Regions from separate parts of the Homo sapiens genome. Here region 1 is linked to region 2. The links come from fine-mapping of genetic effects on gene expression. Tissue or cell type: neutrophils. Region 2 holds a variant in brackets; the other region holds the start of a gene. All regions are shown on one strand. Distances are from middle to middle.

What was found. PIP is the estimated chance that this variant, and not a neighbour inherited with it, causes the effect.
Region 1: VIRMA starts here. The variant in region 2 is fine-mapped to the expression of VIRMA in neutrophils (BLUEPRINT, PIP 0.95).

Annotation. Positions count from the first base shown.
Region 1 is chr8:94,549,089-94,557,196 of GRCh38, reverse strand. It overlaps VIRMA (vir like m6A methyltransferase associated), which reads left to right and starts at 3,728. Exons shown (of 24, transcript NM_015496.5): 1 at 3,728-3,812. The coding sequence starts at 3,750. It overlaps VIRMA-DT (VIRMA divergent transcript), which reads right to left and starts at 3,484. Exons shown (of 2, transcript NR_183271.1): 1 at 3,290-3,484. RefSeq lists an enhancer at 3,415-4,034.
Region 2 is chr8:94,516,160-94,524,267 of GRCh38, reverse strand. It overlaps VIRMA (vir like m6A methyltransferase associated), which reads left to right. Exons shown (of 24, transcript NM_015496.5): 9 at 4,792-5,283; 10 at 6,326-6,480. Among named protein-coding and RNA genes, the nearest start is that of VIRMA, 33 kb to the left of the region's middle. The variant T/A (reference allele first, on the strand shown) is at 3,316.

The sequences.
Region 1 (8,108 bases), 33 kb before region 2:
AGCATACAAAAACATAAAGTGGGGAAAGGACACCCTATTCAACAAATGGTGCTGGGATGATTCGCAAGCCACATGTAGAAGAAGGAAACTGGATCCCCATCTGTGCCTGATACAAAAATCAACTCACAATGGATCAAAGACTTAAATCTGAGACCTGAAACTAAAAATTCTAGACGATAACATAGGAAAAATTCTTGTACACACTGGCTTAGGCAAAGAGTTCATGACCAATAATCCAAAAGCAAATACAACAAAAACAAAGGTAAATAGATGGGACCTAATTAAATTAAAAAGCTTCTGCACAGCAAAAGAAATAATCAGCAGAGTAAACAGACAATCCATTGAGTGGGAGAAAAATCTTCACAAACTACGTATCCAACAAAGGGCTAATATCCAGAATCTACAAATAACTCAAACAAATCAGCAAGAAAAAAATAAATTATCCCATCAAAAAGTGGGCAAAGGACATGAATAGACAATTCTTAAAAGAAAATATACAAATTCACCGGACACAGTGGCTCACGCCTATAATCCCAGCACTTTGGGAGGCCGAGGCGAGCATTGTCTGAGGCCAGGAGTTCAAGACTAGCCTGGCTAACATGGTGAAACCCCATCTCTACTAAAAATACAAAAATTAGCTGGGGGTGGTGGTGCACGCCTGCAGTCCCAGCTACTCAGGAGGCTGAGGCAGGAAAATTGCTTCAACCAGGGAGGCAGAGGGTGCAGTCAGCCAAGATCGAGTCATTGCACTCCAGCCTGCGCAACAGAGCAAGACTCCGTCTCAAAAACCAAAACAAAACAACAACAACAAATATATATATATATATATATAAATTGCCAATAAAGAAATGAAAAAATGCTCAACATCATTAATTATCAGGGAAATGCCAATCAAAACCACAATGAGATACCACCTTACTCCTGCAAGAATGGCCATAATTAAAAAATAAAAAAAAACAGATGTTGGCATGGATGTGGTGAAAGGGGAACACTTTTACACTGCTGGTGGGAATGTAAACCAGTACAACCACTATGGAAAACAGTATGTAGATTCCTTAAAGAACTAATAGTAGAACTACCATTTGATCCAATAATCCCACTACTGGGTATCTACTCAAAGGAAAAGAAGTCATTATATGAAAAAGACACTTGCACACACGTTTATAGCAGCACAGCTCACAGTTGCCAAAATACAGAACCAGCCTAAATGCCCATCGACCAACGAGTGGATAAAGAAAATGTGGTGTATATACATATATATACATATGGGAATACTACATATATATATATATATATATATATATATATATATATATATATATATATGGGAATATATATGGGAATACTACTAACTCAACCACAAAAAGGAACAAAATAATGGCATTTGCAGCAACCTGGATGGAGCTGGAGACCATCATTCTAAGTGAAGCAACTCAGGAATGGAAAACAAAACATGGCATGTTCTCACTATTAAGCAGGAGCTAAGCTATGAGGATGCAAACTCCTAAGAATTATATAATGGACTTTGGGGACTGGCGGCGGGGAAGGGTGGGCGAGGGAGTGAGGGATAAAAGACTACATACACATTGGATACAGTATACACTGCTCAGGTGATGGGTGCACCAAAACCTCAGAGATCACCACTAAAGAACTTTTCCATGCAACCAAACATCACCTGTTCCCTCAAAACTGTTGAAATAAAAATAAAAATGTAAAAAAAAAAAGGATATCAATGCTAAGAAAATCAGACTGTAAAAATGACAACTATAAAAGCACTATATAGTACATTGGTTAAGGGAGAGCTTAGGGGAAAATTTATATAAATACATATAGTAATAAATAAGAAATATGAATAAAAATAAACATCAGTGGTAGAAATTAGAGAACAGCATATAAGCCTAAACACAGAAGAAGGGGGGGGGCACGGTGGCTCACGCCTATAATCACAGCACTTTGGGAGGCTGAGGCAGGAGGATTGCTTGAAGCCAAGAGTTTGAGACCAGGCTGGGCAACGAAGCAAGACCCTGTTTCTAAAAAAAAAAAGAGGCAAGAATCAGAAAACAGAAAAATATTAAAAGCAATAAATATCAATGCAAGAACAAATAATAAAAGATAAACTATAGCTAGCTAATAGAGGAAACTGGATGGCTGAGGAAGGATGTGGAGAGGAGATTTACTTTAGAAATTCATTTATTATTAAATATTTCAGACATACCAGAAGGTACAAACAATAATATAAGGCATGCTTGTGAAATTAACATTAACCTAAATAACAAAACATTACCAAGGCATGTGAAGCCTTTCTGTTCTTCTCCATTACATCTCCTTCCAGTTTACCACTATCTTGAAATTTTAGTTACTCCAATACATGACTTTATAATTTCATGACATATGTACACTCCTAAAATTTTATATTCTTTTGCACGTTTTTAAATATATAGATGTTATTTTACACTATATATTTTTTATTTCCTTTTCTAAGAGATGGGTGTCCCCACTGGCCTCCAACTCCTGGGCTTAAGAGATTCTCCTGTCTCAGCTTCCCGAGAAGTTGGGACCACAGGAACACGCCACCGCACCCGGCTTGCGATGAGAGGAGTTAAACTTGTTTTGTTTTGGTTTGTGTCTTTTTTTTTTCTTTTTGTGAATAACGGGGTCTCGCTATATTGCCCAGGCAGTTCTCCAACTCCTGGGCTCAAGCGATCCTCCCGCTTCATCCTCCCTAAGTGCTGGATTACAGGCGTGAGCCAAAGCGCCCACCAACCCTGTTTTTTGGGTTTTTCATGCTAGTAAACATAGCACTGGTTCATTCTTCGTACCTGCTATATACTATTATATAAATACGCCACTATTTACTTATTACTTCTGTCAATGGCACTTATGTTTCCTGCTCTTTTGCAACTTATAAAGTTTGCTATGAATATTCTTGTATTTGTAGATACGTGGGCGAGAATTTTCCTAGAAGAGTGGTAGGCACGTGTAATTTTACAAGCTATTTCCTAGTTGCTCTGCTAAGGGTTTGTGCCATTTAGACTACCAAACCCGCTGAGTTTATCTCGTTGCTCCAAAGCTCATCAACACCCGACAGAGAGGCTTACTTTTCATTCTGCCTCCTGTTTTATTGTTCATGGTACTTCACGTTACACAATTCCTCGAATTTTATTTCAATTACTCCTCACAATCACCCTGTAGGTTAGGTACGATTTTTCACATTTTACAGATAAGAAAACAAAGAATCTCTTCGTTGGTTGAAACAACAGTTTTTCTTCTATTTAAATCAATGTCTTACTTTTCAACCTCGCTCACTGTTATCTTTTTGCTCCCAGCGCTGGAAAAAGTGGGACATCCCCTTCGGTGGGTGTACGGGGTTGGTATCCAAAGTTGGCAGCTTTCCCTCCCCCTCCTCCATCCACCGTCTCCAAAACCCCGTCTCCGCACTTCGCCACCCGGAGACCGCTGTAGCTCTGTAACGCGGAGGAACGACAGGGTTTGAACCACTGGAGACCCCGTAGTCCCCATCTCACTTCCCTCTGCCCCCCCTCTGCGTTCTAGGGGGCGCCCTCCGCCGCGCTGGAAAAGGCGGGGCCGGCAACTCCGGGCAACAAGATGCGTTGGGATAGGCCGAGGTTTGCGGCGCTAGTGCTCTGGTCACCGGAAGTCCCTCTGTTTCTCCCTCTCCTGAGTCGCTGTCGCGGAGGCTGGAGCGCTGCCCCGGAAGTCCTCCCCCCTGTTCCCCGCCCGCGGCAAACATGGCGGTGGACTCGGCGATGGAGCTGTTATTTTTAGATACTTTTAAACACCCGAGCGCTGAGGTAAGGCTTGGCGACTTGATTCTGACGCTGCTTCTTGACTTGGGATCTTTACAAAAAAACCGTTAGGCGTTCTCCACTTTTCCTTCTGCAGATTGCTTCTTTAATTTCTCGCTTACACACAGACACCCTCCCCCGAGCTGTGTGAGCATCGCGTCTGAGGGAGGGCTGCAGCAGCCCCTTCATTTCCTTGCTTTAACTTGGGCCCTCCGTGTCTTTGGTCGAGTTGGCTTTTCTGCTTGCATGGCTTTATTTTTTATTTTTCCTGTCAGGTTTGGGCCTTGAGAAGGATCAGGGTTCTCAGGTTTACCTCAGATGGCGTTTGGGAGGGGTCTTGGTTTGCCAGTAGTGTTTGACAGTAGTGCCGGAGTCTGAGCAGTTTACGTTGGCTTCGTGGTTTCCGAATCACGATGTTTCTAAATCCTTTCTCTTTGGCCTCTTTTCTGTCGGGAATTATGTTCCCCAGTTGTGACACTTACTTGGTTTAGGATTACGGTGCTCTCCGATTTGGCCTGAAACTTTAATACTTGTCTCTCGGAGAGATTTCACACATTAGGAATGAGATGCATTCACGGAGAATACTTGCGAAGAGGGGAGAGTTGAGAGAATTATAGTTAAACTCATCAGCAGACATCTCCTTTGAGGTTGGAGGTGGAATGTTGTGGAGTAATATTTCTGTACAAAACTACTTGAGCGCCCCTTAATGTACAATTGGCCCTGCAATATGTAGATTAAACATAGCTGGTTAACTAAAGATTCCTGAAAGCAGACCAAAAATGAACTTGAATGAAGTCTACGGAGAAATTGTTAAAAAAAAAAACGAACTTCACATTTTTCTGTCTTAATGTAAGCTTAATTTAGAGAACTGTTCTTTCTTTGGAGATTATTTTTTTCCTTTTATTTTTATCAAGTGTGCTCTTGTATCAAGCTTTTTGAGGACAGATATAATTTCTCTTTTTCTCAGCTGTATCTCCAGTGCCTAGGACAGTATTAGCAAAATGTAGGTGCTCAATAAATATTTGAATGGAAAATGTTTAAAATGTTCTTTCTTTTATGAGATAGTAATGATAGTGGGTAGTGATTGTATCATAATGCTTTACTTGGCAAAATAAAAAGTTGACAGCTGTGATCTAATTTAACGAATGGTTTATAGGTTTGTAAAAGTCAAAAGTTGGAGAACTTTGAGTTAGCATTTCTTACTGACAGTTAATTTATGGTCTGACATTTAATGTGGGTCAGTTAGCACTGTTTGTTCAATGACTATATCTAACATTCTAGCCGAGATTTAGAAAACCCTCAATGGAGGCAGTAGTTGGATCAGAACAAACTTATGGTGTATAGAAATAGAGAACAGTTAAAACTGAAAGAGCCTGGCGCAGTGGCTCATGCCTGTAATCTCAACGTTTTGGGAGGCGGAAGCAGAAGGATTGCTTGAGTCCAGGAGTTTGAGACCATCCTAGGCAACACAGTGCAACCCCTGTCTCTACAAAAGAAAATTAACTAGTTGTGGTGGTTTGATCTTGTTGCCCCAGCTACTCGGGAGGCTGAAGTGGAAGGATCATTTGATCCTGGGAGTTCAAGGCTGCAGTGAGCTAAGATCACACCACTGTGCTCCAGCCTGAGCAACAGAGTGAGACCCTGTCTCGAAAGGAAGAAAGAGAAAAAGGAAAAAGAGAAAGAGGCATGTGATGAATTAGTTTAGTACTATTCTAGTTTAGGAAAATTGGCCTTCATTAGTTTATCATGTATTTCTATTCTTTTATTCATTCTTAGGTAAACATTGAATACCTTGAGAGCATAGGGCAGATGGTAAATGCTTTCTTCTGGGGTGATTGGGGAAGGCTTAGCAGAGATCACATTTAAATCAAGTCTTGAAGGAGGAAGTAGGGGTTTGTGGGTGATACGAAATATTGAAATGTTTGTTTTCAAGAAGTTATAACTCAGTATTGGAGATTAGATTCACAAAATTGTGATTTGAGTTAGAATGTGATGATCACATAAAGAAGCACAGTGTGAATTCGTTGGGGTTTATCATCTTAGTTTACAAAATGCCCATCAGTATCTGACGTATTAGAACTAGCTCCCTTTGTGGGTATAAATAAAAGATACAAGATTTCAGAAGAGGCAGAGATAACTTTTCATTTGAGTGTATCAGGAAAGACTTCATCAAGGTGTTTGGCTTATGAACTTGGTCTTTGGTGAAAGGGGCAATATTTCACAGTTGTAGTTAGGAAAGGAGGGCATTCTACTGGGGTAGTCAGTCGTCTGTTAGGGTATGCTTGAAGTAGCAGTGTGAAGTGGCACCCAAGGCAATTCAAAGACAGATCATGGAGCTCCTTGAATGCTCGACAAAGAATTACAGACTTTAGGCCAGGCGCAGTGGCTCACGCCTGTAATCCCGGCACTTTGGTGAGGCTGAGGTGGGTGGATTGCCTGACGTCAGGAGTTCGACACCAGCCTGGGTAACACAGTGAAACCCCGTCTCTACTAAAATACAAAAAATTAGCTGGGCGTGGCGGTGTGCGTCTATAGTCCCAGCTACTCGGAAGGCTGAGGCAGGAGAATTGCTAGCACCCGGGAGGAGGAGGTTGCTGTGAGCCAAGATCACGCCACTGCACTCCAGCCTGTGCGACAGAGCAAGACTCTGTCTTTTAAAATAAATAAATACATAAATAAATAAAAATTATGGACTTTATTTTGTAGGAAATGGGTAGTTTTTGAGCAGGCGAATCATACAATTAGTAAGATACATTAGATAGATTACTTGATCAATAATACTTAAAATGGTTCAGAGAAGGCCAGGCGCCGTGGCTCATGCCTGTAATCCCAGCACTTTGGGAGGCCGAGGCAAGCGGATCACGAGGTCAGGAGATCGAGACCATCCTGGCTAACATGGTGAAACCCTGTCTCTACTAAAAATACAAACAAATAGCCGAGCGTGGTGGCAGGTGCCTGTAGTCCCAGCTACTCAGGAGGCTGAGGCCGGAGAATGGCGTGAACCCGGGAGGCAGAGCTTGCAGTGAGCCGAGATTGTGCCACTGCACTCCAGCCTGGGTGACAGAGCGAGACTCCGTCTCAAAAAGAAAAAAAAAAAAAATGGTTCAGAGAAAATAGAGGTGAGGTGACAAAATCAGAGAGAAAAAGTGAGATGTTATGAAAACCTGAGTTAGCCAATGGGCAGTAAGCATTGTTTAACATTTATTGAATGCTTAATTTGTGCCAGACACAGTGGGCTTTGATAACTTAAGTAAATCATCTCTGGTCCTTCCATCAGTTTTTTTTTTTTTTTTTAAGACTAGGTCTTGCTCTGTCACCCAAGCTGGAGTGCACTGGTGCGATCACAGCTCACTGCAATTTCTCCCACCAGGGCTCAATCGATCCTTCCATCTCAGCCTCCCGAGTAGCTGGGACTACAGTTGTGCACCAACACGCCTGGCTGATTTTCATATTTTTTTGTAGAGACGGTGTTTTGCCATGTTTCCCAGGCTGGTCTTGAATTCCTGAGCTCAAGCGATTCTCCCACCTCAGCCTCCCAAAGTGCGAAGATTACAGGCGTGAGCCACTGCAGGGCCCACGCTGAGTTTTCAAAGGTAGTCATCTACATTTTATAGATAAGGAAACTGAGCCTGAGAGATGAGGTGACTTTCCTAAAATAGCATAGCTAGATTAAGATCCACCATCATACATTTTTCTGGCTCTAAGGCAGTGCTATGCTGTGTCCCAGTGGAACTACGTAGGAGAGGATTTATACAAGTTTTGGATATGTACAAATTTCGAGTATAGAATTGACAGGATGGCAACTGATTATGTGAAGGAGATAGGGTAGTTAAAAATGGTAAAATTCTAGTTTTAGAGACAGGAGAACTAGTGGGACTAATGATGGTAAGAGTGTGGAAGTGAGTTTGATGGGAACGGGATAATTAGCCAGATTAATTTGCCCCATAGGAAGTTGAGAATCTGTTTAACAATTATTTATGAAAAACACTTTTGAAGGTGAGGGTATGGCTTTAGGAGGGGCAATACAAGTCAGAACAAAGCCCATTGCCCTTGATTTCAAAGGAATTTGTAATATGGTAGAGAAGAGACATTTATTAGTTTCACACAGGGAATCTTTATTGCCAGCTGCCATTAACAGCTCTTTTTTTGGTATTGTATTTGTTTTACCAATAATTTCCTCTTCTCCACATAAACAATTGATACACATTTATAAGGCCAATCCACTGAGTTCAGAAGATAAGCAGTTAAACTTATTAAAAGACAATTTGATTGTGAGGGAATAGTGTTCCCGTGAATGAAAAA
Region 2 (8,108 bases):
CAGCACTTTGGGACGCCAAGGCAGGTGGTTCACCTGAGGTCGAGAGTTCAAGACCAGCCTGACCAGCATGGAGAAACCCCATCTCTACTAAAAATACAAAATTAGTGGGGCATGGTGGCGCATGGGTGTAATCTCAGCTACTTGGGAGGCTGAGGCAGGAGAATTGCTTGAACCCGGGAGGCAGAGGTTGCAGTGAGCTGAGATCTCACCATTGCACTCCAGCCTAAGCAACAAGAGCGAAACTCCGTCTCAAAAAAATAAATAAACAAGTAACAAAAACACACACACACACAGACACACACAAAAACTAGCCGGGCTTTGGTGGAATGTGCCCGTAAACCCAGCTACTTGGGAGGCTGAGGCAGGAGAATCCTTTGAACCCGGGAGGTTGGAGGTTCTGGTGAGCCGAGATCGGGCCACTGCACTCCAGCCTGGGCAACAGAGTGAGATGCTATCTCAAAAAAAGAAAAACTAGCCAGGTGTGGTGGTGCATGCCTGTAATCCCAGCTAACTCGGGAGGCTGAGGCAGGAGAATCGCTTGAACCCAGGAGGCAGTGGTTGCAGTGAGCCGAGATCGTGCCACTGCACTCCTGCCTGGGCGACAAGAGCGAAACTCCGTCTCAAAAAAGAAATTTGGCCAGCCTGGGCAACATAGGGAGACCGCTACAGAAAATAAAAAATCAAAAAAAAAATAGCTGGGAATGGTAGTGTGCGCCTGTAGTCCCAGCTGCTCAGGAGGCTGAGGTGGGAGGATTGCTTGAGCCTGAGAGGTTAAGGGTGCAGTGAGCTGTGATTGTGCCACTGCACTCCAGTCTGGGCAGCAGAGTGAGACTGTGTCTCAAAACAAGAAATTTGGCTAAGAGAAAAAGTAAGAGACAAGGCAGCAGCTAGAAGGAGATGTTGGAGTCAAAAAGGAAGGTTTTTATTTTTTAGGAGTGGGAGAGGCTTGAGCATATTTGTAGGCTGGGAATAATGACTCATTTATAATAAAAAGTCAGTGGAGAGGGAGATGTTTATGATGTAGGAGTAAACAATAACAATTCCTGGGGCAAGGCTTGGTGGGAGATGAGGACAAGAGTACAAGTGTAGGAGTTTGGTTTTGGGCAGGAGAAAGGGAATCTTGTAAGTATGCAAATATAATACATTTGTAGTCTTGGAGATTGTAAAGAAATTTAAATACTTCTTACTAACAACTTTATTTTTAGTAGAATAGGTGATGTTTTCAGTCACTGAGAAGAAGCTAGTAATTAAATACTTACTGAGTGTTTTTTTCCCACCATATGGAGGAGGTATATTTGGGTATCAGACAAGAGGAAATAAAGGGCCCAGAATGGTTGTGCTAAGGAATTTGGATTTTATTTGTAGAATATGGAAAGGTATTGAATATTTTGGAGTAGCAGATCTGATATGATCAGAGTAATATTCTCAGATTTTGTGTTGCAAGATGTATTGCAATGGAAAAGAAATTAGAGTTACTAGGAAGATAAGATAGTCTGAGGTTTCTAGGTACTGGGTTTTAAGTACTTTGCCCTTAACAGGTAATGGAAAGGCAAATATTGTGCTTATAGTGACAGAGATTGTGAAATAGCCATTATATTATATAATAGTACTAGGACTTGGCAACAGGACCTAGTAGGCGAAGGGAAGTGAGAAGAAGCTAGAGATTTCTAGCCAGGGTAGCAATTGGAGCTGTGGTTTTATTGACAGAAACTGGTAAATTAGGAAGGAGAGTGAATTTTGAAAGGAAAAATAATTGTACTTTGGAGGGTTTGTTTTTGAAGTGGTGGCAAGGCTCTATTGTCCTATGTCAGGTTCCCCAAGAGCACCAAGATTCTCTAGGAGGACTCACAAAACTCAGCATATAATACTCAGCAAAGGAAAAAGGTACCTGGGAGGAAGTTGGGAAAACCAGTTGCAAGCTTCCAGAGTCCTCTCACAGTGGAGTCACATAGTGCCTGCCTAATTCTCACAGCAACAGGTTGTGACATGTGTGAAGTGTTGCCTGTTGAGGAAGCTCTTTAGAAACTCGGCACCCAGGCTTTTTTATTTTTTATTTTTAAATAGCAACAGTGACATGTTTTGATACATGTATACATTGTGGAATAATTATATCAAGCTAATTGGCATGCAAATTTTTTTATTGTGGGTAGTCATGTAGGCACTCACTGCCTATCTTATACCAGAATTCCAGACTCCTAGAAGGAAAGCAGGTGTTCAGCATAACCATATTGTTTGCACAAATAATTTAGGCACAAGGAACCATTCTTATCAGTTAGGGGTGCGGGAATCCTCTTGAAATCTAAGTTCCCAGAAGTTAGCCAGTAGCCAACCTTGCAAGCAGACCTCTAAGGATGTGCAGTCTGAGGCTTGCTATTTTAACCATTCTCTGAATGGTCCATAAGGGGGATGCTCTTGGAGCATAGTAATTCTGGAGTTTTGTCTTCTTGAAGGTTCTGTTTGCCTTTGTAGTAAGCAGTTACTGGTGGGTGTTTATTATTGTGAAGTAGAAGCCTGGGTTTAAATAGTAATAGGACTGAAGAAGCAGTTTCAGCTTTTGACAAAATTAAGTTCTGGCCTGTCATTTACTTTTTAGTAGTATTTTGATGGGTTTATGAAAGCTATTGTGTTACCATTTGCAGTGACTAAAATGGAAGAGAATGAGTCAGAATTATAAATAATTTTATTCTTTTTAACTTTCAGAAAATTATGATATTCTTAATAATTAAAAATTAAGAAGTTTTCATTAAGCTGGTTCTATCTTGTAGTCAAGAGATGTTTTGACAGATTTTTACCCCATTTTTGAGTATTTGAAAAAATACGATGTTTTGGTTCTTTTTTCTTTAAAATCTGGTTAAGTTTCATTTTTAAAAAGTTGAGGAATGAGATCATGTCCTTTGCAGGGACATAGATGAAGCTGGAAGCCATTATCCTCAGCAAACTAATGCAGGAACAGAAAACCAAATACTGCATGTTCTCACTTACAAGTGGGAGCTGAACGGTGAGAACACATGGACACAGAGAGGGCAGCAACACACACTGGGGCCTGTTGAAGGAGAACAGAGGGTTGGGGGAGAGCATCAGGAAAAATAGCTAATACATGTGGGCTTCATACCTAGGTGATGGGTTGATAGGTGCAGCAAACCACCATGGCACACGTTTACCTATGTAACAAGCCTGCACATTCTGCACATGTACTCCAGAACTAAAAAATTTAAAAAAAAAAAAGAGATAAAAAAGTAGATTTTGGAAAAGAGTTTAGGGAGAATGAGGCAAAAGGATCACTTGAGTCCAGAGAATTGCTTAAGACCAGGAGTT[T/A]GAGTCCAGCCTGGGCAACATAGCTAGATTTCGTCTCATAAAAGAGTGCTATGTGTGGTAATACTAACTGCTTAAATGTTAAAAATTGACAATTTGAAAGCTTTTTCCCTAGAGATACTAATTCAGTCTACTGTAGTAAATCTGAGTATACTATATTTTTCTATAGTACAGTCATCCCTCACTGTCTGCAAAATTGGTTCTCAGACCTCCCTTGGATTCCAAAATCCAAGGATGCTCCAGTCTCTGATATAAAATATAAAATGATGTAGTATTTGCATATAACCTATGCATATCCTCTTGTATACTTGAAGTCATGTCTAGATTACTTATAATACATAGTACAATATAAATGCTCTGTAAATAGTTGTTATACTATTATTGTGTAGGGAATGATGTAAGAAAAAAGTCTGTACATGGTCAGTACAGATACATTCTTTTCTGTCTTTTTTTTTTGAGACAGAGTCTTGCTCTTTCACCTAGCCCAGGCTGGAGTGCGGTGGCATGATCTTGGCTTTCTGCAGCCTCAACCTCCTGGGCTTAAGCGATCCTCCCACCTCAGCCTCCCAAGTAGCTGGGACTACAGGCATGGGCCACCATGGCCAGCTAATTAAAAAATTTTTTTAGAGACAGGGTCTCACTATATTGCTCAAGGCTGGTGTGAAATTACTGCGCTCAAGTGATCCTCCAGCCTCAGCCTCCCAGAGTGCTGGGATTACAGGTGTGAGCCACCACAGCCAGCCCAGGCTTTTTTTTTTTTTTTTTTTTTTGATGCAGGGTCTCACTCAGGTTGGAGTGCAGTGGAGCAATCATGGCTCACCGCAGCATTGACCTCCCTGGGCTCAGCCTCTTCAGTAGCTGAGACTACAGACATGCGCCACCACGCCTGGCTAATTTTTGTATTTTTTGTAGAGACAGGTTTTTGCCATGTTGCCCAGGCTGGTCTTGAGCTCCTGGCCTAAAGTGATCTGCCTGCCTCGGCCTCCCAAAGTGCTTGGGATTGTAAGTGTGACCAACTGCACCTGGCATCAGATGCACTTTTAAAAAATATTTTCGATTTGCAGTTGGCTTAATCCACAAATGCAGATGCGGAGTGCTGACTGTATATACTATATTTTTCCTAGATACATGAATTTAAATATACCAATATGCCATGAATAAAGTAGGACCATGGTGAAAAAGGAGCATTTGATAAGTGTCCTGGAAAGAAGGCCCAAAATTTAAAGAAAAGCTTGTCAATAATTATTTATTTAACATCTGTTGAGTGCTAACTAGGACAAAGCCTCACAGAACATTCACTCTTATTTGGCCTCATCTAGAGAAGACTTGCCACTCACATTATGTTTTCAGTTAAAGCAGTATATTACTGAGGATAAGGATTATGGTCATTAAAAATTTTTATCAGTGTCTTGTCTGAATATTGAGTAAATGAAGAATGCTTTGCACTGACTTGACATGTATCAATTAACTCTTCCACAGATATCTTCACAGTCATCACTTCTTGGAGTTGGTTACCTTGCTTCTGTCAATTCCAGTAACAAGTGCTCACCCTGGTGTGCTGCAAGCCACAAAAGATGTTTTGAAGTTTCTTGCACAGTCACAGAAGGGTCTTCTTTTTTTTATGTCGGAATATGAAGCAACAAATTTATTGATCCGAGCTCTGTGTCACTTTTATGATCAAGATGAGGAGGAAGGTCTCCAATCTGATGGTGTTATTGATGATGCATTTGCCTTGTGGCTACAGGACTCAACACAGACATTGCAATGTATTACAGAACTGTTCAGCCATTTTCAGCGTTGTACAGCCAGTGAAGAAACAGACCATTCAGATCTCTTGGGAACCCTGCACAATCTTTATTTGATTACTTTTAATCCTGTGGGAAGATCAGCTGTTGGCCATGTTTTTAGTCTGGAGAAAAATCTCCAAAGTCTTATTACTCTAATGGAGTACTATTCCAAAGAAGCCTTGGGGTAATTTCCTACTTACTCCTTAAATTTTCTATGATGTTAGAAAATCAGATTAACTAATGGTCTAGTTTCTTAAAAGAAGGTGTTATTTTGAGAGGGAAAAACTATAGTTTTGATATAACACAAAACTTGTTAATTAAAGGTTAGAGTGACAGAAATCTCTAAAATATAAGATGTGGCTATAAAGTAATACAGTGGACTCTTTAGCACCTTCCTTCAGTTAACCCATGGTGTTAAAGATTGCAACTGTAGTACCCCCTGCTGTTTTATGCAGAGGGGAATTCTAAGGCACAGGAATACGTACCTTAAGGTATATATTCCTTTTATTCCTCTTACACTTTCTTGCTGGCTCCTGCCCTTGCATTCTAAACCATGCTCTGGATTCAGAATTGCTTTGACTAGATGGGTAAATTGAGAATGATAATGGTTTGAAGAGCCTTCTTGGTAAGGCAGAGGGTTTTATTATATGAGAAGAAAGACATGCCTTATTTCTGGTTCATGTCACACAAGGCAAATGGCATCCAGATAACTGCCCTCACTATGAGGACTGGGTGTATAACTCCTTGAGTGACAGATCTTTTGTGGGGTGCTTATGAAAAGCAAACAGCAATGACTTTCATGCCTAGCTGTATCTTAACAGGTTTATAGTGGAATACTGAGTGTTGAAGGCAGGTGATCATACTCGTTCCTATTTATCCAGATTGGACAAATATTTTGAAGGAGACTAATGAAGTATACTTCCTAACCTTTCATTACTAATGAAGTATACTTGTTAATATTTCATTGTTTTTCTGATCTTATTTCTTAATAGAATTTTACTTTCCATGGTGATATGTATGCTTTTTTATATACTTTTAAGTAAAGTAATGGTTTCAGGTGAATTGGATATGAACTGTAAAATCTGATTTCTTGTCTTCAGACAGTTAGTCATGTTTTATTGTAAATGTCCTTGATCTCTTTAAAGCCAAGTAGAAGAAAATTTTTAAAAATTGTTCCTAAAAAATTGTTTTTGTATCCAAAACTTAAAAACCTTATTTTGTTTCAGTGATTCCAAATCTAAGAAGTCAGTAGCTTATAATTACGCATGCATACTTATTTTGGTGGTGGTTCAGTCTTCCAGTGATGTTCAAATGCTAGAACAACATGCAGCATCTCTCTTGAAGCTTTGTAAAGCAGATGAAAATAATGCTAAATTGCAAGGTATGGTACTTAAAGTTATTTTAAGCATTTGTAATATGTGAAGGAACAAACCTTTGAATATCTGTAATTAGTCCTTCATCATGTTTCGATAATATACCTAGTAATACTGTTTTTAACTTCCTGAAATTACTTTTTATGAAGACAGTTTATAAAAACTAAAGGTTGATAAAATGTTTTAGTATATAAACAAAATAGTTTTTACAAGTACCTTTTCTGGAAAGTCATGAAAATTGGTGGTTTGTTGAAATTTCTAATCAAAATGGAAGAGTTTAAAGACAAACTCAAGGCCGGGTGCGGTGGCTCATGCCTGTAATCCCAGCACTTTGGGAGGCCAAGGCGGGTGGATCACCTGAGGTCAGGAGTTCAAGACCAGCGTGACCAACAAGGTGAAACTCCATCTCTACTAATAATACAAAAATTAGCTGGGCGTGCTGGCACACGCCTGTGGTTCCAGCTACTCGGGAGGCTGAGGCAAGAGAATTGCTTGAACCTGGGAGGTGGAGGTTGCACTGAGCCAAGATTGCACCACTGTGCTCCAGCCTGGGCAACAGAGCAAGACTCCATCTCAAAAAAAAGACTCAAAAGTTTAGTTTTGGGTATAGTTTTCCTTTGTGTGTTTTGCTGTGTATGTATTTCTACATAAAACACAAACTACAACTTAGAAATCTAGTTGTGGAGTAACACATTTGTGCTATCCTCAAAAGTAAATAATAGTAAATATGAATATTATTTTTTAAAGTATATAAATGTGTATCGAATGACATTTATGGGAAACCTTATGTGGGCAGCCTTGACAAGTTTAATATACCTAATCATAAGTTTTAAATTATTTTATTTTGGTTCCTCGTTTTCTGACCTTATCAAGTAGAAAATTTGATAACGTTGAGTAAATATTGTAAAAATGCTTTAAAATAGCATGTGGCCTCTTCTTTTCTTTTTAATCCTAAATTTTACTTGTGATAGCTCCAGTAAAAGTTGGGTAGTAAACTCAACTTCCCATTCTGGGAATAGATTTTTTTCCTGAAGAATGCGTTTATAAAAGGAGGGCACACAGTGTCTTCAAAGGTATTATTAGTGCTTTAGTACTTTTTCTGGGTGTTGGGTATTCTGGTATTTGTTTTATTATTATTTCTTATATCTTTGAGCTATATATTCTATATATAAGAAAGATTTAATTTTAAAATGCATGGGGAAAATTGTACAGCTGTAATTCTGGTGGAGGAGTGTAGAACCAAGGAAAGACCTGGCTACTATTTTCTATTTCCTATATGGCATCTGGAACTGGTATTTCACTTTTTACATTGGAGTGCTTTTCTAGAAACATTTTTGGTGATAGAATATAGGAGTTATGGTATAGCTTCTGGGAGAGTTTTGAGTTTGTTTGCAGTAAATGGCAGATTGTATTTGTGTTTATTCTATAAACAAAGTTTGCTGTCATTCTTTTGGGGTGATAGTAATTTTATAAAGGCAAATTTGGAAGTTGACAGAATTAAAATTTCATGTTAGAGGAAAAGGCACTCAGCAAAATATCTCCCCTTGGGTTTCATTCCTTTAGAAATTAATAAATTTTGTTTATACTTTTTTTGGGTGGGTGTGAGAGGCAGTGGCAGAGATAGGTGAATAAACAC